Linked DNA regions of Homo sapiens: region 1 is linked to region 2. Evidence: fine-mapped expression QTL. Tissue or cell type: whole blood. Region 2 holds a variant in brackets; the other region holds the start of a gene. All regions are shown on one strand. Distances are between the middles of the regions.

Region 1 (10,326 bases), 27 kb before region 2:
GACTTTCCCCTACGAACAGTCTCTGATTTCCACAAGACCCCCTGCAAAGGGGTCTCCCCAGGTGGAGATGGAGGTGGAGTGTGGGCGTGGCTGGATGGTGATAAATCAAACAAGGCTCCATTGTGGTCTGGGCAGGAGGCATTGCATCCAGCCAAAGGCTGGTGATGTAAATGCCAAACTACTGACCCAGAAAGAATGCAGCCCAGCCTCCGTCACACACACCGGCTCCTGACACTGGCCACGTCCCAGCGCAGCTGCCCCAAGGACCCCAGGGCTCCAGCTGTGCCAGGTGCCTGGACTTGGGAGGGGGAAGACCCACTTTCAGAGACAGCAGAGGGAAATCAGGGCAAAGAGAGGGGAGGCAGGGTGCCCTCCAGCGTTGGGGCGGGTGACCGGTGCCAGCACCACCTGGACTCAGCCAGAAACAGAGGGACGCAGGCAGATGGGCTTCAGATCTGTCTGCCTCCCACTCAGTGTACACAGGGCAGGCCAGGCCAGGCCTATCCCGAGACAGGCTGGAGTCCAGGTACAGGCAGACATCTGGGTTCCAATCTTCACTCTGCCACTGACTGCCTACCTGTGTGCCCGTGGGCCACCTGCCTTCCCCTCTCCCCATCAGTCACACCAGAAGGGCCGATCCCACTGGGTGGTTAGGAAGATTCAAATGAAACATAGATAAAGCGCAGAGTACATGGTGAGCACTAAATAAGTGCTTGCAATGATTGATCTTACCTAGCCCCAGGGCCCCTCCCTTCCTTCCTACTTGGCCTAACAGACTTTGGCTAATGGCACTCAGTAAGCAGACAAGATGCAGAGAAGGACACTTCGAACACGTCCATAACAGATCAACTCCAGCCACTTTGTGGGGAGGATGAGCCCCTGCCTTCTCACTGCTGCCCCCAGGTGGGTGTCGCCCACCACCCCTGTGCTGTATGGAGACATCCTATCCTACAGACCCAAGCACGGGATGAGTGAGGTGGGAAACACGGCCCAGAGTTTCAGCTTTTCAGCTTTGCTTTTTCTAAAACCCAAGGGCTTCGGAGTAATTTGAACAACATGTTTGGGATGACTGTAGCCAGGGCAGTCACTCCCGTCCTGCCCCCCACCAAACACACACACATACATATACACATACACATACACATACACATAAACATACACATACCCACACACAGCAAACACTAAGAAAGGGGCTGAGAGCTCTGTTTCCCAGGAGTCCTAGAAGTCACTGAGCGCAAGGTGCATGGGTCTGAGTCCTAAGCAAACCTGCACCCCATGCTCAGGGAGACATCAGGATTCCAAAGAGAGATGGCTTCAAGTCCATCCAGGCAGTCAGAGCCAAAACAGCCCAGAGACTATTGTTCCTTCCCTCAGACCTGGGACCAGATGGGATGGTGAACCTGTCAGCAGATGCCTCAGAGGCCCGCATCCCTCCTCCAGCACCCTGGGACTATGTCTGCCCCTTCTAATTTAGAAACCCACCCAAGGAAAGAGCACAACATTTTAATGCCTTGGTAAAATGAGAGAGCGAAATTAAGTTGTTGTAAAAATTATTTTTCTCAGGGCTAGGCTAAGTGGCTCACGACCATAAACCTAGCACTTTAGGGAGGCGAGGCAGGTGGATCACTTGAGGCCAGGAGTTTGAGACCAGCCTGGGCAACATAATGAGATCCCTTCTCTACCAAAAAATAAAAAATAAAAATTAGCCGGGTGTGGTGGTACACACCTATGGTTCCAGGTACCTCAGAGGCTGAGGTGGGAGGATCGCTTGATCCCAGGAGGTGGAGGCTAATACAAGCTGTGACTGCACCACTGCACTCCAGCCTGGGTGACAGAGTGTGACCCTATCTCAAAATATATATATATTTTTCTCCCACACCTAAATCAAGGAACTGAGCCTTCTTTCCAGTATAATAGTTAACACTTACATGCAACATTTAGACTTGTGCCAGAGGCTGTGTTAAATCCATAACATGGATTATCTCATTTAAATCCTCTCAGTCCTATAAAGTAGGCACTAGAAGGCAATTATTATGCAAACAATATGAAAAAGAATTTAAATGTGGTTCTGAGGAATATCTCAGAAAAGACACTGACCCCGTAAGTGGAACCCACTCTGGGGCTCTGCTCTTTCTGCCAGTAGGGATCATGATGTCTCCTTTGACCCCACAGCGTAGAAGCCCCATAACCTCATGTTGCAGAGGCCCCATACCGAGCAGAGGCCACTCCCTGAGTCACCACTGCTAGATGGTTTCTACAATGCAGAACTCACTGTGCAGGACACGGCAGTGTGGGATCCACTTTTAAAGAAACAGGAAAGCAGCTGGTTGCCCTCACAGCCAAGAATCCGATCTGAACAAGTATTCTGAAGAAAGCACTGCAGTAGGAATATGGAAAGCTAGGAAACAAAATTGCCATGCCCTCTGTGCCCCCAGAAAAGGGAGGGGGGCAAGGGGACAATCAGAAAAAAATGGAAAGACAATGTAGCCAGACATAGTCCTACCAGAAGAAGGGACATCCTCTCCCACCTCCAAATAAACCCCCAGGTTTCCTCGCGCTTGATTTTTGGTTGCCACGGTCAGAAATTTTTGGTTGCCGTGGTCAGAATTGCAGGCTGCTAACAAAAGGACTGATCTCAAGAGAGAAATGTAAATGCATGGACTTGGTGCCTTGATTCTTTCAAAGAACACTGTGGACTCCATGCTTCCTAACTTCACTACTGTGAGGCTGAGAGGGACAGGCTCTCCCAATATACAGATGGAGCCAGTATGTAAGGTTCACGAAGTCTAAATTACTTCAGAGAGAAGCAAAGCCAGAGAAGCCAGGAGCGGTGCTGTTCCCAGTATTGGTCCCAACTCCCCTCAAAGAAGCATCCTTCGTTTCAGGGCAGATAATCATCCCATTCTGCATTGAAGCTGTGAAGGCCTCTTCCCTCAGTCACACGGCTCTGATTCCAGTTATCCAGTGTGTTCACCAAATGCAATACCTGCCATTCCCCACTGTTCCTGACAATAACTAGAGGAAAAAAGCCCAATGAAAGCCACTGGGTGTGGCAGGAGGGGCAAACCACAGACCAGCCAGAATCTGGTCCAAAGCCCAGAAACATCTTTTCTGAAGCCCAAGTTCCTGGGATGACCAAATCTCGACCAGTGGGCCAGGTAAATGGCATCCCCTGGGTCTGCCAACACTGCACATCTGAACGAATGCCTTGGGAGAAAAAGGAACACGGCTAGCAAGCCACCAAATCATTTTCCCAGTTTGATGCCCATCCTTCTGGTAATTCCATTTGGAAATGTACTAAGCCTGGATTGACAGATCATGACCCACACTGAACCACAGGGGTGGTTATTTTCAAGGCTGCTTTGTAGATGGGTATGGGAGTGGGGGAGGAGGCAGATTATGGCAAAACAGAAAGGGAGGCCACTAAAGTTTATCACAAGGCAGATAATCTGCCACAAATGAAGCTACTACTCTGTTCCCTCACGGGAAGAGAGGTCTAAACCCTGGGGTGGATAGCAGGTTGGCCAGGGATCTGATGCCTCCCCACCCGAGGCCTGGGAAACCTGAGGGTAGGCAGATGTCCTGAAGATCCAGGAATACCCCAGGACCTTTGAACCCCATGTATGGAGGGTCTCCATCCCACAGGACAAGTCCACCACCAGGCGGCCCACTAGAAGGCGGCAGGGGAGCAAAGGGAGGCCATGGGCAGCAAGGAGACAGAGGCTGAAGAGACCCCCCAGATTTGGCGAGAGGAGCCAGTAAAGCTAGGTGAAGGGGAAGGAGGCCAGCAGCCTGGACGGGTGGCTGCAACACACAGGCAGGCACCTGAGAGGGGCCCCAAGAAGATACATCTTCCAGCCCTGACCCTGGGGATAAGAGTTCTAAAAAGGTCAGTTGTGACTTTCAAAAAGTCCCTCTTCCATCCAACACGTTCTTTGCTCAGCCTTCCCATCTCATTAATACAGCAACTCCGATGTGCTTGGAGTCATATTTGACCTTTCTCGTCCTTCCATGAATCCACCGGCCAATCCTATTGGATCTGCCTTTAAAATCTATCCAGGTCTGCAGGGGCCAACTATACAGAAAAACACCACATCCTATCGGAAGGTCTTGCTTGGAGTGAGGACCAAGAGGCAGGTGGAGTGATAGGCATCTCTGAAGATGCCTCTGGAAGAGATAACTCCGAGACTCAAGTATCTCCAAGGTTAGAGGGAAACAATATTTTTCTCCATAACAAGGATGCACTTATTCACATTTCAAATTTGTCCCTAGGATTAATAGCAATCCCTCCAAATACATGGTTGATAATGAGAAAGGATTAATTTAATTGGACATAATTCTGAGCCCTCCAACATAATTATCTATTTGTATGGACTTTGGTTAAAATAAACTACAGACCAGAATAATCAATCAACACGTATTTAATTCCATCAAAGAATGAGTTCTTCTACCAAATAGAAAATTGTAACTCCCTGAAGTCAACAGTCTTGTCTTTCAAGCCTTTCTTTTTTTTTTTCACCTAAAGCAAGTAATCATATGTACAGGAGCACGTGGCTCTAGGATCCAGACCCAGACAAGGGAGTACATTTCTGATCTACTTACTAAGCCCTTTCCTCTTTACTCAAAACTCCTTTGACATCCTTTGAATTTTACCTTTATAATAATTAAACATGATCGTAATATGCTAAACCTATTTTTAAAACCATTTTAATCTATTGTTGACCTTTCCCCTAAGTTTCTATTCTGTTCGTGTGACTTAAATAAGACCTTTTGTTTTAATAACAGGAGGGTGTGTTCATATAAAAATCATGGTAATTTCCACTGAGATCAACTAAAAATACCAGAGGAATAAATGTATCATGGTTTCCTATTATCTGAACCAAACATAAAGGGCAAGAAATGTTAGGAAAAATCCCAGATAAATTATAATTCGAATTAAATACAATTAGGGCATTCGGCCAGAGGCCGACATACACAATTCTACTAGTCGAATGTAAGTAAGATAAAAGGCACATTCTTTAGGGAGATACACCTGGGATTGAAATCTCAACCATCTGGTAACTATGTCTGGACTAAAACCCAACACATGAGGGCATGGCGGTGATGACGTGAGTATTGGGAAATGTAGGTTATTTATTTATTTTTTTCCTGAAGGCACATGTCTGACTATCCTAGTCACACAAGTCAAACACAACTGCTGTCTGGTTCCCCCATCCCCTGGAAAGGGTCAGGAGCTGAACCAGCAGGCTGTTGTAGTACTACAGTGCAGCTGCCGCTCTGTGTACGCGCAGGTTTTAGAATGACTCTGACCTGCCCATGCCTGGGAAGTTTTCTACTACGCAGAAAGGAACACCCTGAGAATACGGTGTCTTGCTAAAGGCGGAAGAACTTCCTCTCATTCCAAACCATGTGGAGGGCTTGAGGAACCCGGCCTTTCCAGGCCACACTGGGTCACAAGGAAGCCCACCTAGGGGAGACTTCCTCAAAGCAATCTTGGGGACCCAGACGAGAGGTGCAGGCGGCGCGTCCCGGGTTCTAGGGACAAGCGGAGAGCCAGGCGCCCTAGGTCAGGGCGGCCACCGGGCGGGGATGGCAGCAGAGTCCCTGGGCCGGCCACCTGCCGCGGGACCACCCTCCGGGCGGCCGGGCAGAGTCCCCACCCACGGCTGATGACACATCCCCGGACCTCGTGGCGGGGCGGGGTGCTCTGCACCGCGCCATGTAAGGGAAGGTCTCCTCGCCGCCGGCGGGCTCCGTGTGCCTCCCAGTCTGGCCCCCGTGCCCGCCGCCCGCCTACGCACCCCGACCACCCCGTGCGTAGCGGCGCGCGGGTCCCCGGACAGGCGCGCGGAGCGGGCATCGCCAGATCGCCCACGCTTACTCACTCGGTGTTGCATCATGCACCACGCCGCGGTTTCAGGGAGCCAAAATGGACTCCGTGGAGGCGACAGTCGCATGGGCACCAGCCCCGCTCGCCCACTCCGGGGCCCGCCCGGCCCTGGTCCTGGCCCTTCCCAGAGGATGGCAGCGTTCCCGGCGCGGGGGCCCTCGCCACTCCCGCGCCGCCCTGCCGCGGCCCCACGCGGCGCCAGGGCCCCCTCCGTGATGACCCGGGCCCAAGGAGCTGCCCCCTGCGTTGGCGGGGCCGGGCACTCACCAAGCCGGCGGCGGCGGGGCTCCGGCAGGATCGCGAACAGACAGACTGTCGGACGCGCTCAAGGACCAACGGACGCTCGGCCGGCGAGACCGGGCGGGGCGGGGCGGGGCGGGGGCGCGGCGCGCGGGGAGAGGAGTGGAGGCTGCGGTTAGCGGGAGCCCGCGGCCGCGTGCGCGCCTGCCAGGTAGTTGACCCGCTGCTCACACCTGCCTGCGCGGACTGAATGGGCGCCGAGGGCTGGCGGGTTCCGGCGCCAGGTTTCATCAGCAGTGCGCCCGGCCCCCGCCCCTCGCGCTCCGCGCCCCGCGCCCCACGCCCGCCCCCGGACCAGGCAGCCCCGGCCCGCTCGGCCGCGTCACCGCCGGGCACCAATGGGAGCGCGGCGCGGCGGCGGCTGCCAGCCCAGAGGCTGCGGCCGGGGACCGACGCGCCCTTGGTGGGCGGGGCGGCTGAGTCTTCGCGCGCCCAGCGCCCCAACCTGGGGTTCCCGCGGCGGGCGGGCGGGCTGCGCCTCCGCTCGCCTTCTCAGTAGCTCCGTAGGCGTGTGGCCGTTTCTCCGCCAATCTGAGCGCACCGCGCCACAGCATCCTGTGGTCCCCTGCAGATCCCACAGCGCCCTGGCCAGAACTAGTGCTGCAGGTCCGGCCGTGCCAACCCCCTCCCGGCGGGCCCCAGGGAGCTCACACGGAACTCGAGACCAGTTTTCCTTCTCCAAAATAAAAGATTTGGTATGCACTTAAAAGGTTTAAACTGTTTTCTTTTCATTTTAGAGACAGGGTGTTACTCTATTGCCCAGGCTGGAGCGCAGTTCACCTTAACCTCGAAATCCTGGCCTCAAGCGATCCTCCCGCCTGGGCCTCCCAAAGCGCCCTAGGATTACAGTCCTGAAACACTGCACCGGCCTAAAAATTATTATAAATCTTCATGTCTTTGTTATTGGATTATTTTATTACTATTCCTTTGCCCTTGCTAATACCTTATCCTTGCCAGTTGTCAGAAGAGCCCCAAAGCTTGAATCTACCTGTGCCCCCTTGGCAGTGGCAAATGCACAAACGGCTAGTCAGAACGGCTCACTTTTGCAGTTACCCCCCAGGAAGTGGCAGAAGCTTCAGTCCTGAATCACACCGTGCTCACCTTTTAAGCTCCCTCCTTGTCTCCTTTTGTACCAAAAGCCAAGCGAGAATCATAATCTTTAAAGATCCAGTGATCTGGGACTTGGGATAGGTAAACAGGGCATAAATTAATAATGCCATCCTTCTTCTATCTTATAGGAAAACAGAAAAACAGTGGACGGTGTCCGTGGTCTTTGAATCCTTTCTACAGGTCCTTCTCAAATATCAGCTGCTGAACTATTCCCTTGGAATTAGACTAGCAATTTATAAAGTACATAACTGCATGGTGCTAGCTTCAGAAAAAGTGTTCTGTTGTTGTTGCTGTTGTCATTTGTTTGTTTTTTAGAGACAGGGGTCTCACTCTGTCACCCAGGCTGGAATGCAGCGGTACAATCATAGCTCACTGGAACTTCAAATTCCCAGGCTCAAGCCATCCTCCTGCCTCAGCCTCCCAAGCAGATGGAACTACAGGCTTGTGTCATCACGCCTAGTTAATATTTTTTCTACATATAGACACGGGTTTTTGATATGTTGCATAGGCTGGCCTCAAATACCAGCTGTCTAGCGATCATTTTGCCTCAACCTCCCCTAGCATCGGGACTACAGGGATGAGCCAGAAAAAGTCCCCAGAAAAAGTTTTAATGAACACATGCAGATGGCTTAGCAGTTGTAAAATGTGTTTTTGTCTTTGTTTTAGAGAGTGGGTCTCACTCTGTCACCAAGTTGGAGTGCAGTGGCAACATCATAGCTCACTGCAGCCTTGAACTCCTAGGCTCAAGCGATCGCCTCACTTTAGCTTCCCCAGTAGCTGGAAATATAGGCGAGCACCATCCTGCCCAGCTTTGTAATGTGCTTTGAACAGTGCTTGACATCATAGTAAGCCACCATATATGCTTTGTTTTAAAGCAACAAATCTGGCCTGTCACGGTGGCTCACGCCTGTAATCCAGCACTTTGGGAGGGCAAGGCAGGCAGATCATGAGGTCAGCAGATTGACACCATCCTGGCCAACATGGTGAAACCCCGTCTCTACTGAAAATACAAAAATGATCTGGGCGTGGTAGCGCACGCCTGTAGTCCCAACTACTCGGGAGGCTGAGGCAGGAGAATCACTTGAACCCAGGAGGCGGCGGTTGCAGTGAGCCAAGATCGCACCACTGCGCCCCAGCCTGGTGACAGAGCGAGACTCCGTCTCAAAAAAATAATAATAAAAATCAATAAAAAATAAATAAAACAATGTATCTTAGTTCAATTGCACAGTGGTGAAATGATGCCTTCCATTCACAGAAGATCTCCCAGATCCCACGCAGCCTACTCTGTCTGCTGAGGCCACAGTAAGCATGTCCCCTTCTCACAGAGAGAAGCCTGGTAGGATTAAAGACCACCTGCTTTGCCCTTGGCACCAGATCAGGATTTGAATCTGAACTCTACCAGTTCATTTGCTGTGAGAGCTTCTGCAAACTATTTCACTCCTGTTTGGAGCTTGTAAATCTTATATTCTTAAGAAAAAAATCTATCCCTTGGTGTTTGAAATATGACTGTGGAATTTTCTCTTTCTGCCTCTCTTTCTTTCTTTTTCTCTTTGCTGACTTCTGGCAGTAAAATAGAATTTCATAAATTGTAGAGATGCTCTCCTTGGGCAACACAGAGCGCCAACATGAGTTAATGTTTGTAAATTCTGAGAGCAAGTGCTCCAGGCCCTGATGGGAGTATGGTGACATTTAACCCAGGAGATTTTTAGCACTGTGCTCCGTTTAGCAATCCCACTCAGCAAGGTCCTGTCTTCAAAAAGACAATAAGACAAGCCCCATGAGCAAGTGACTTCTCAGCAAAAAGGATTCAGTATGAACCAGGGAAAAAATAGTTACGCACAAGATCTCAGCAAAACATTAGAGGATGCTGATAAAGAGGGCTACATGTTTTAAGCAAAGCCAGTTTTTAGGCAGGTCAAGACTCACATTACAGGTTCAGAGAAACCGTGAGTGACAGGCAGCCTTGATTACAATCAAAGAGCAGCTGCCCAAGATTCCAGCAACCATTAAGAAAGGGAGATGCTACAATTTAGGCCCTAGAGAGCAACATCTAAGGTTAAGGTTGACATACTAAGTCTCTTTCTAGCACCATTAGGCACCTTGGGGGCAAGGAAAGTGCACAGAATCAAAGCCAGGCAGATGTGGGTTTCAATTCTAACCAGCTGCTGGCCTGGGGAGAGGGGCCCTGCTCACTCTGTGCCTCAGTTTCCTCATTTTCGAAATAAGAATTTTACTACCTGCTGGATACATACGAACTTCATGGTAAGGATGAAAAATGTGTATAAAGATGAACAGAATATAGAGCTCAGAAATAGACTTAGTTTGTTTTGTATTGCTATAATGGAATACTCGAGTCTGGGTAATTTATAAAGAAAAAATGGTTTATTTGGCTCACAATTCTAATGGCTGGAAAGTTCAAGATTGGACATCTGCATGTGGAGAGGGCTTCAGGCTGCTTCCACTCATGGCAAAAGATGAAAGGGAGTGTGCGTGTGTGCAGAGATCACATGACAAGAGTATAAGCAAGAGGGAGAGGAGAGAAGGGCCCGGTTCCTTTAAATAACCAGCTCCAGAGTCATCTAATAGAGTGAAAATTCATCTCCCCGTCCCACCTACCCCCAGGAAGGACATTTCATGAAGGATCCACACCCGTGAACCAAATACCTCCCATTAGGTTCCACCTTCAACATTGGGGATCAAATTTCAACATGAGGTCTGGAGGGCACAAACATCGAAACCCAAACAGTAGCCTAGACCCACACAAATAGCTGATCCAGAGTGGCTAAGACAAGTCAATGGAGACAAGATAGTCTCCTCAACAAATGGTCCTGGAACAACTGGACCTGGACCGCCACATGCAAAAAATAAATCTAGACACAGACTTTAACATCTTACACAGCAATTAACTCAAAACAGATCATAGGCCTAAATGTAAAACACAAACCTATAAAATGCTTAGAAGATAACATAGGAGGAAATCTACCAATGGCTTTTTAGATACAACAGCAAAAGCATTATCTATGAAA
Region 2 (10,372 bases):
GAGTGTGTACATCGAAAAGCCTGAAGGAGCACAAATAGACAATCTAAGGTTACACCTCAAGGAACTAGAGAAACAACAAACCAAACCAAAACCCAACAGAAGAAAAGAAACAACAAAGATTAGAGCAGAACTAAATGAAATTAAAACAACAAAGAAAAACAATACAAAAGATAAAGTAAGCAAAAAGCTGGTTCTTTGAAAAGATAAACAAAATTGATAGACCATTAGCAGGATTAACCAAGAAAAGAAGAGGGGAGATCCAAATAAGCTCAATTAGAAATGAAACAGGAGGTATTACAACTGATACCACAGAAATACAAAAGATCATTCAAGGCTGCTATGAACACCTTTACACACACAAACTAGAAAACATAGAGAAGATGGATAAATTCCTGGAAGCATACAACCCTCCTAGATTAAACCAGGAAGAAATAGATACTCTGAACAGACCAACAGCAAGCAGCAAAATTGAAATAGCAATTTAAAAAATTGTCAACAGAAAAGTCTAGGACAAGACAGATTCACAGCTGAATTCTATCAGACATTCATAGAAGAATTGGTAGCAACCCTACTGACACTATTCTACAAGATAAAGAGGGCATCTTCTTTAAATCATTCTATGAAGCCAGTATCACCATAATACCAAAACCAGGAAAGGATATAACAAAAAAAGAAAACTACAGACCAATATCTCTGATGAACGTAGGTGCAAAAATCCCTAACAAAATACTAGCTAACTGTACTCAACAGCATATAAAAAAGATAATCCATAATAATCAAGTGGGTTTCATACCAGGGATGCAGGGGTGGTTTAACATATGCAATTCTGTTTACGTGATACAACACATAAATAGAATTAAAAGAAAATCATATGATCATCTCAACAGACACAGAAAAAGCATTTGACAAAATCCAGCATTGCTATAAGATTAAAACCCTCAGTAAAATCAGCATAGAAGGGAAATACTTTAAGGTAATAAAAGCCATCTATGACAATCCCACAGCCAACATTACACTGAATGGGGAAGAGCTGAACACATTCCCCCTGAGAACTGGAGCAAGACAAGGATGCCCACTTTCACTACTTCTATTCAACATAGTACTGGAAGTCTTAGCCAGAGCAATCAGACAAGAGAAAGAAATAAAGAGCATCCAAATTGGTAAAGAGGAAGTCAAACTCTTGCTGTTTGCCAATGATATGATCATATACCTAGAAAACCCTAAAGATTCATCCCAAAAGCTCCTAGATCTGATAAATTAATTCAGTAAAGTTTCAGGATACAAAAATCAATGTACACAAATCAATAGCACTGCTATATGTCAACAGCGACCAAGCTGAGAATCAAATAAAAAACTCAACATCCTTTACAATAGCTTTGAATAAAATAAAATACTTAGGAATATATCTAACCAAGGTGGTGAAAGACCTCTACAAGGAAAATGACAAAATACTGCTGAAAGAAATCATAGATGACACAAACAAATGGAAACACATCCCCCACTCATGAGAGGGTAGAATCAATATTGTGAAAATGACTATACTGCCAAAAGCAATCTACAAATTCAATGCAATTCCCATCAAAATACCACCATCACTCTTCACAGAACTAGAAAAAACAATCTTAAAATCCATATGCAACCAAAAAATAGCCCGCATACCCAAAGCATGACAAAGCAAAAAGAACAAATCTGGAGGCATCACATTACCTGACTTCAAACTATACTATAAAGCTATAGTCACCAAAACATCATGGTACTGGTATAAAAATAAGCACATAGACCAATGGAACAGAATAGAGAACCCAGAAATAAAGCTAAATACTTACAGCCAACTGATTTTCAACAAAGCAAAAAAAAAAACGTAAAGTGGGGAAAGGACACCCTATTCAACAAACGGTGCTGGGATAATTGGCAAGCCGCATGTGGAAGAATGAAACTGTATCTTCATCTCTCATCTTATAAAAAATCAACTAAAGGTGGATCAAAGACTTTAATGTAAAGCCTGAAGCTATAAAAATCCTAGAAGATAACATAAAAAAACCTTCTAGACATTGGCTTAAGCAAAGACTTCATGGCCAAGAACCCAAAAGCAAATGCAACAAAAACAAAAATAAATAGATGGGACTTAATTAAACTAAAATGCTTCTGCACAGCAAAAGAAATAATCAGCAGAGTAAACAGACAACCCACAGTGGTGAAAATCTTCACAAATATGCATCTGACAAAGGACTAATATCCAGAATCTATGAAGAACTCAAACAAATCAGCAAGAAAAAAACAAACAATTCCAGCAAAAACTGGGCTAAGGACATGAATAGACAATTCTCAAAAGAAGGTATACAAATGGCCAACAAACATATGAAAAAATGCTTGATACCACTGATTGTCTGGGAAATGTAAATCAAAATCACAATGTGATACCACCTTACTTCTGCAAATATGACTATAATCAAAAAATCAAAAAATAATAAATGTTGGCGTGGATGTGGTGAAAATAAATATTTTTACACTGCTGGTGAAAATGTAAACTAGTGCAACCACTATGGGAAACAGTGTGGTGATTCCTTAAAGAACTAAAAGTAAATCTGCCATTTGATCCAGCAATGTTACTTCTGGGTATCTATCCAGAGGAAAAGAAGTTGTTATACGAAAAAGATATTTGCACACATGTTTATGAAAGCACAATTCACAATTGCAAAAATATGAAAGTAGCCCAAATGCCCATCAATCAATGAGTAGATAAAGAAAATATATATATGGAATACTACTCAGCCATAAAAAGAACAAAACAATGGCATTCACAGTCACTTGGATGGAATTTGAGACCATTATTCTAAGTGAAGTAACTCAGGAATGGAAAACCAAACATCGTATATTCTCATTCATAAGAGGGAGCTAAGCTATGAGGACGCAAAGGCATAACAACGATACAGTGAACTTTGGGGACTCAGGGAAAAGGTTGGGAGGGGATGAGGGATAAAAGACAACACATTTGGTACAGTGTGCACTGCACATGTGATAGGTGCACCAAAATCACTAAATTTACTGCTAAAGAATTTATCAGTGTAACCAAACACCACCTGTTCCCCAAAAACCTACTGAAATAAAAAATTAAAATTAAAATTAAAAAAGAATTTTCCCTACAGTTGTTGTTAGCTTTAAGTTGTTATGTCTTTTGCTGTACAGACTTTTCATTTGTATCTAGTTATCTTTCCTTTTGTTATTTCTCTAATTGCTTCCATCCTTAGAAAGTTTTTTCTGACTAGAGATTATTCATTCATTCATATAAAATAAATTTTACAGGTTCTTGTATTTTCAGTTGTTTAATTTATGGCAAATTTACTCCAGTGTATGCAATGAAGTAAGAATATAAATCTCAGTTTTATATTTTACAAACACCATTTGCTGAAGAATCAATTTCTTAATGACTTGTGATGAGTCATTTATCATACATTAAGGTTATATTTTAGGGTTTACTCTATTTAGGCTCTTCCATGGAATTATTGTTAATTATTGTATCATTTTTCTTTGGACAACTTAGTGATGTAGCTTGCTGTCAAGTAGGTAAATTCTTCTGTCTTCCCATTCTTCTTTCTAAAATTCTTATTTTTCATACTGATTTATTCTGAGAATCATTTTACCACATTCTTCCCTGCCATACACAGAACTCTGGAATGTTGAATGGAATTACTTTAAGACTACACACTAACTGAAGAAGAATGTATACCTTTGCTGTAGTCCTTTTTTCCACTGGGAATATAAAATATCTCTCAAATTAATTAGGTCCAGGCAAGGAAATAAAGCTGAGCATCTACTAAAATTAGTAAATCTGTAAGATTTACTCCTATAAGGAGATACCCACTTCTGCATTTAGCTGGGACCCCAAGGGCAACATTTCATGATGGGATGAAAAAGAAATAAAAACTGATATGCAAATGGAAACAATGGAGAAACCTCCTCGTCTTGAACTTGATGCTTGTTGGAGGGGTAATAGCAGTCTTTATTGAGAATTCATCATCTCAGTCTGGACCCCACATAAATTTCGGTACAAGTTCATATTGGTAGTGATCTGAACAATCTCAAGCCAGGATTAAATTTAAAGAAGTCTCATATTGGCAGTGCCTCCTAGTTGCTGGCAAAAGCAAACACAAATCTTATTTAGAAGAATGTACCTTCAAGCAAGGGTACGTGGGAAAAATTCCCATGAATAAATGCCTAAATAAAATGATCAACTCATAATTTTAAATCATCTAAACACAGACTAAAAAGGCACCATCAGTGAAATAATCAGTAACAGACAATAGAAACAGATGTGCAAAACTTCAGATAGAGAAATATCACACCCAGATATAAAATAACTATCTTTAGCAGTGTTAAATAAATAAAACAGATGTTTGAAAAAAATGGAATAGAACTCTAGAAATGAAAAAATATAATAACTGAAACTAAAACTCAATTGATCACACCCATTATGGTGGCTATTACCAAAAAAAAAAAAAAAAAAAAAACCAGAAAATAAGTGTTGGTGAAGAGAAATTAGAATCCTTGTGCATTGTTGGTGGGAATGTAAAATGTTGCAGCTACTATGGAAAATAGTGTGTGGTTTCCCAAAATATGAAACATAGAATTACTATATGGTTCAACAATCCCCTGTCTGGATATATACCCAAAAGAAATGAAAGCAAGGACTCAGTTACAATCATGTGTTATTTAATGACAGGAATATGTTCTCAGAAATGCATTGTTAGGCAGTTTATCATTGTGTGAACATCATAGAGTATACTTACACAAACCTAGATAATAGAGCCTACTATATACCTAGGCTACAAACCTGTACTATATACAGCATGTTTCCTTACTGAATACTGTAGGCAATTGTAACACAATGGTAAGTACCCAGATATCTAAACATATCTAAATATAGAAAAGAGACAGTAAAAACATAATTCAGAAGATAAAAAATGGTATACCTACATAGGGCACTTACCATGAATGGAACTTGGGGACTGGAAGTTCCTCTGAGTGAGTCAGCAAATAAGTGGTGAGGATGTGAAAGCCTAGGACATTACTGTACTCAACTGTAGACTTTAGAAACACTGTACATTTAGACTACACTAAATTTATTTTTAAAATAATGTTGGCCGGGCTCAGTGGCTCACGCCTGTAATCCCAGCACTTCGGGAGGCCAAGGTGGCTGGATCACAAGGTCAGGAGATCGAGACCATCCTGGCCAACATGGGGAAACCCTGTCTCTACTAAAATACAAAAAATTAGCCTGGCGTGGTGGCATGCGCCTGTTGTCCCAGCTACTCAGGAAGCTGAGGCAGGAGAATCGCTTGAACCTGGGAGGCGGAAGTTGCAGTGAGCTGAGATCGCGCCACCGCACTCCAGCCTGGTGACAGAGCAAGGCTTCATCTCAAAAAAAATAGAGTCATTGTGCTACAACATTATTATGCTATGATGTCACTTGGTGATAGGAATTTATCAGCTCCATTATTATCTTATGGAACCACTGTTTTACATATAGTTTGTTGTTGACTAAAATGCTATTATGGGATGTATGACTATATTTGGACATCTATATTCATAGCAATATTATTCATAATAGCCAAGAGGTGGAAGCAACCCAGTTGTCCATCAACAG[A/T]TGAATGGATAAGCAAAATGTGGTTTGTACATACAATAAAACATGATCTAAACTTAAAAAAGAAGGAAATTCTGACACATACTGTAACATGGATGAAGCTTGAAGACATTATGCTAAGTGAAATAAGCCAGTCAAAAAAAGATAAATACAGTATGAGTCCACTTATATGAGGTACCTAGAGCAGTCCAATTTATAGAGACAGAAAATAGAATGGTGATTGCCAAGGGCCAGGGGAAGTGGGGAATGAGGAGTTATTGTTTAATCGAGTATGGAATTTCAGTTTGGAAAGATAAAGAAGTTCTGGAGATGAATGGTGGTAATGGTTGCACAACAATGTGAGTATTTAATGCCACTGTACTGTACACTTAAAATGGTAAATTTTATGTTTTTTATATATATTACCGTGATTTACATGTAAATAAATAAATAAATAAATATTTAAAAAACTAAATTAAGGCTTCTGGTAATGATAGACTAGGTTATTCAGACCTCTCATTCTGCCGACTATAAGGTAGCCAAAATAAAAGGTATCTGCTTGAATACAAGCAAGAGAAAGTGAGACAGTGAAAAGTTGCTAGCCCATGTTTTAGGAGGAAAAGGGGAGGCTAGGAAGAGGAACCTCCTTTTTCTCTTGACTTTGAGGCTGCTTTTTCCTTGGAAGCATTTTTCAATTTTAGATGGAGGCTGCCGAGAGGCTGAGAAGGTCTCTTAACAGTACCAGAGGCAGATGAAATAAGGATTGGGGTCCAGGTGCTGCCAAGATTGAGGGGGAACTTCGGTGAACTTCTCTTGTTTTGAGTCGCAACCTTGTGGGCTGAATCCTAGAAAAAGGGTAAACTACAAGTAGAAAGATCCTTTCAAGGACCACTGTTCATATTTGAATTGTATCAATTCCTGAAACTACACTAAAATGATTCCAGATTGTTATTACTCCCAGGCAGCTGGCAGAAGCAAACATCAAATTATCTACAAAATAGTTTCCAAATACAATCTCCAGCACTCAATGAAACATTTTTAGAATATAAAGAGAAACAATAGCATGATAGAAAATCACCAGAAACAGCAGGCCGGCAAAATCAACAGTCCACCAATATAAAATCATGGTGATATCAAATATTAACTGTAAAATAACCAAATTTACTATATTCAATAAAAGATAGAGATTTTTGACAGAGGATTAGAAACTGAAAAAAAAAAAAGAACCAAATGGCAGTTCTAGAACTGAAAAAGACAATGACTATATTTTATAATTCAATGGGTGAATTTGACAGGAATTTAGACTGAGAGCTAAAGAGAGAATTAGCGAATTGAAAGACAGACGAGAAAAAATGATTCATGTATATGCATATCTAGCATGATGAATATGAAACAGAAAGGACAGAAAATCCAGAAGAAAGAGTGAGAGAAAAAGAGGGTATGGTGAGAGTATTCAGTTGAAGTCCCAGAAGGAAAGAAGACCCATAATGAGGTCAAAATAATACTTGGGCTGCACATAGTGGCTCATGCCTTTAATCCCAACATTTTGAGAGGCCAAATGGGGAGGATTGCTTGAGACCAGGAGTGAGAGACCAGCCAGGGCAACAAAGAAAGACCCTGTCTCTCCAAAAAAAATAAAATAAATAAATAAATAAGAAGAAAGAAAAAAATTAGGTGGGTGTGGTTGTGTGCCTGTAGTCCTAGCTACTTGGGAGGCTGAGGCAGGAGGATTACTTGAGCCCAGGAGTTGGAGGCTGCAGTGAATTCTGATCATACCACTGCACTCCAGCACTCTCACAACAGTGTGAGACTCTGTCCCTAATGATAACAATAATAATAATATTTGAAGAGATAATAGCCAAGAAATTTCCAAAACTAATGAAAGACATCAATCACAGATTGAGAAAAGTCTATACATATTCAAAGCAACATTAACCAAAAGAAAACTATGCTTAGGCAAAGCATGTAAAACTGTTAAAAACCAAAGGAAAACAGGAAAATCTTGGAAATCACCATAGGAAAAAAAATTACTTCAAAAGAGCAATAATTAGACTGGCATCTCACTTTTCAGTGAAATGGAATAAAAAATGACAATGGAATTAAGTTAAATGACTAAAAGTTAATATTTATCATCTTAAAATTTTTTCAATTCTAAGATATTTTGTGAATTCCAAGAAATTCCAGTGAAAATATCCTTCAAGAATGAAGGAGAGGCTGGGCGGGCATGGTGATGCATACCTGTAGTCCTAGCTAGTCTGGATGGTAAGGCAGGAGGATCACTTGAGCCCAGGAGTTCAAGCCTAGCCTGAGCCACATAGGGAGACCTCATCTCTTAAAACAAACAAACAAACAAAAAAGAATGAAAATGAAACAAAAATAATCACGCGGGAGGCGGACCAAGATGGCCAATTAGAAGCTTCAGTCTGCAGCTCTCACCGAGAGGAGTGAAAATGGCAAGTGAATTCTGTACTTTCAACTGAGGCATCCAAGTTCTTTCTTGTTCTAGGCAGACAGCTTGACCCATGGAGAGCAAGGAAAAGCAGGTTGAGGCGACAACCCACCTGAAGCAGCACAAAGCCAGGGAGACCCCACCCCCAGCCAAGGGAAGTAGTGAGTGACTGTGAGGCCCTGCCCAGGAAACCACTTTTTTCCCATGTATCTTTGCAACCTGTGGATCAGGAGATACCTGAGCCACCAGAGACTTAGGTCCGAAGCAAAGAGCTGTGTGGAGTCTTGGGGAAGTGGACACTCACGCATGCACAGAGACCCAGGAGTTTTGTGTACTCTGGCCCTGGGGATTCTGGTGAGGTGGGAGTTCCATTCGTGCATTCCCCTAGGAAGGGGGCTGAATCCAGGGAGCCAAGCAGAGTTGTTCTGATGGCCCCACTCCAATGGCACCTCACAATTTAGGACACACTGGCTTGGAATTCCAGCTGGCCAGTGGCAGTAGGCTGGAGACTGCCTGAGACAGACTGAGTTCCCCAGGGGAGGGGCGGCTGCCATCTCTGTGGTTTGAGTGGGCCATTCTAGCATGCTGGCTCCGGGAAGTCCAGGCGGTCCAGACCAGAACTCTGATCTCTTCCTGTGACAGAGCCCCAGGGGAAGGGCCAGCCACAGGCTCTGTGTTTCAGCTGACTTAGTCTTTCTAGCCTCTGGCTCTAGAGAGTCTAGGCAGTCTGGACAAGGGGGCTCCCCCCACAGTGCAGCGCACCTGCCCTGCCAAGGGGCAGCAAGATTGCTACTTTAAGTGGGTCTCTGATCCCATTCCTCCTGATTGGGTGAGACTTCCCAACAGGGGTCTCTAGACTCCTCCTACAGGAGCGTTCAGGCCAGGATCAAGTTAATGCTCTCCTGAGATGGAGCTCCCAGAGGAAGGAGCGGCCTGCCATCTTTGCTGTTTCACAGCCTTCACTGGTGATACCTCCAGGTGTGGGAGGGATAGAGGTAACTAGGATATGGAGTGAACCCCCAGTAAACCACAGCAGCCCTACAGAAGAGTGGGCTGACCAATTAAAAAAAAAGAGAGAGAGCAACAACAACAACATCAACAAAAAGATCCTGCAAAAACCCCATTCAAAAGTCAGCAATCTCAAAAATCGAAGGTAGGTAAGCCCACAAAGATGAGAAAGAATCAATACAAAAATGCTAAAAACTCAAAAAGCCAGAGTGCCTCTTCTCTTCCAAATGACTGCAACACCTTTCCAGCAAGGGCACAGAACTGGGTTGAGGCTGAGATGGCTGAATTCACAGAAGTAGGCTTCAGAAAGCAATAATGAACTTCACTGAGCTAAAGGAGCATGTTCTAATCCAATGCAAAGAAGCTAAGCATCATGATTAAACTATACAGGAGTTGGTAACAGAATAGCCAATTTAGAGAGGGGCATAACTGATCTGATAGAGCTGAAAAACACAACACAAGAAATTCACAATGCAATCACAAGTATAAATAGCAGAATAGACCATGCAAAAGAAAAAAATCTTAGAGCTAGAAGATTATCTTTCTGAAATCAGACAGACAGACAGACAAGAATAGAGAAAAAATAATGCAATAGAATGAGTAAAACCTCTGAGAAATATGGGATTATGTAAAAAGACTGAACCTACAACTGACTGGTGTTCCTGAAAGGGAAGGGAAAAATGAAACCAAGTAGGAAAACATACTTCAGGATATCATCCGGGAGAACTTCCACAACCTAGCAAGACAGACCAATATTCAAATTCAGGAAATTCAGAGAATCCTAGTAACATCCTCCATGAGAAGATCAACCCCAAGACACATAATCATCAGATTCTGTGAGGTCAAATGAAGGAAAAAATGTTAAGGGCAACCAGAGAGAAAGGCCAGGTCACCTACAAAGGGAAGCCTATCAAACTAACAGCAGACCTCTCAGCAGAAACCCTAGAAGCCAGAAGAGATTGGAGGCCAATATTCAACATTCTTAAAGAAAAGAATTTCCAACCCAGAATTTCATTACCAGCCAAATTAAGCTTCATAAGCAAAGGAGAAATAAGATCCTTTTCAGACAAACAAACACTGAGGAAATTCATCACCACAAGGTCTGCCTTGCAAGAGCTCCTGAAAGAAGCACTAAATATGGAAAGGAAAAACTATATTATCCATTACAAAAATACACTAAAGTACACAGACCAGTGACACTATGAAGCAACCACATAAACAAGTCTGCAAAATAACTGGCTAGCATCATGATGACGGGATCAAATTCACACATAACAATATTAACCTTAAATGTA

Evidence for each region. PIP is the estimated chance that this variant, and not a neighbour inherited with it, causes the effect.
Region 1: SLC7A1 starts here. The variant in region 2 is fine-mapped to the expression of SLC7A1 in whole blood (INTERVAL, PIP above 0.99).

What each region holds. Positions count from the first base shown.
Region 1 is chr13:29,589,259-29,599,584 of GRCh38, forward strand. It overlaps SLC7A1 (solute carrier family 7 member 1), which reads right to left and starts at 6,430. Exons shown (of 13, transcript NM_003045.5): 1 at 6,158-6,430. RefSeq lists enhancers at 69-1,065, 3,226-3,727, 3,728-4,227, 5,317-5,446 and silencers at 5,094-5,388, 5,557-6,796.
Region 2 is chr13:29,616,563-29,626,934 of GRCh38, forward strand. No RefSeq gene overlaps it. Among named protein-coding and RNA genes, the nearest start is that of SLC7A1, 26 kb to the left of the region's middle. The variant A/T (reference allele first, on the strand shown) is at 5,645.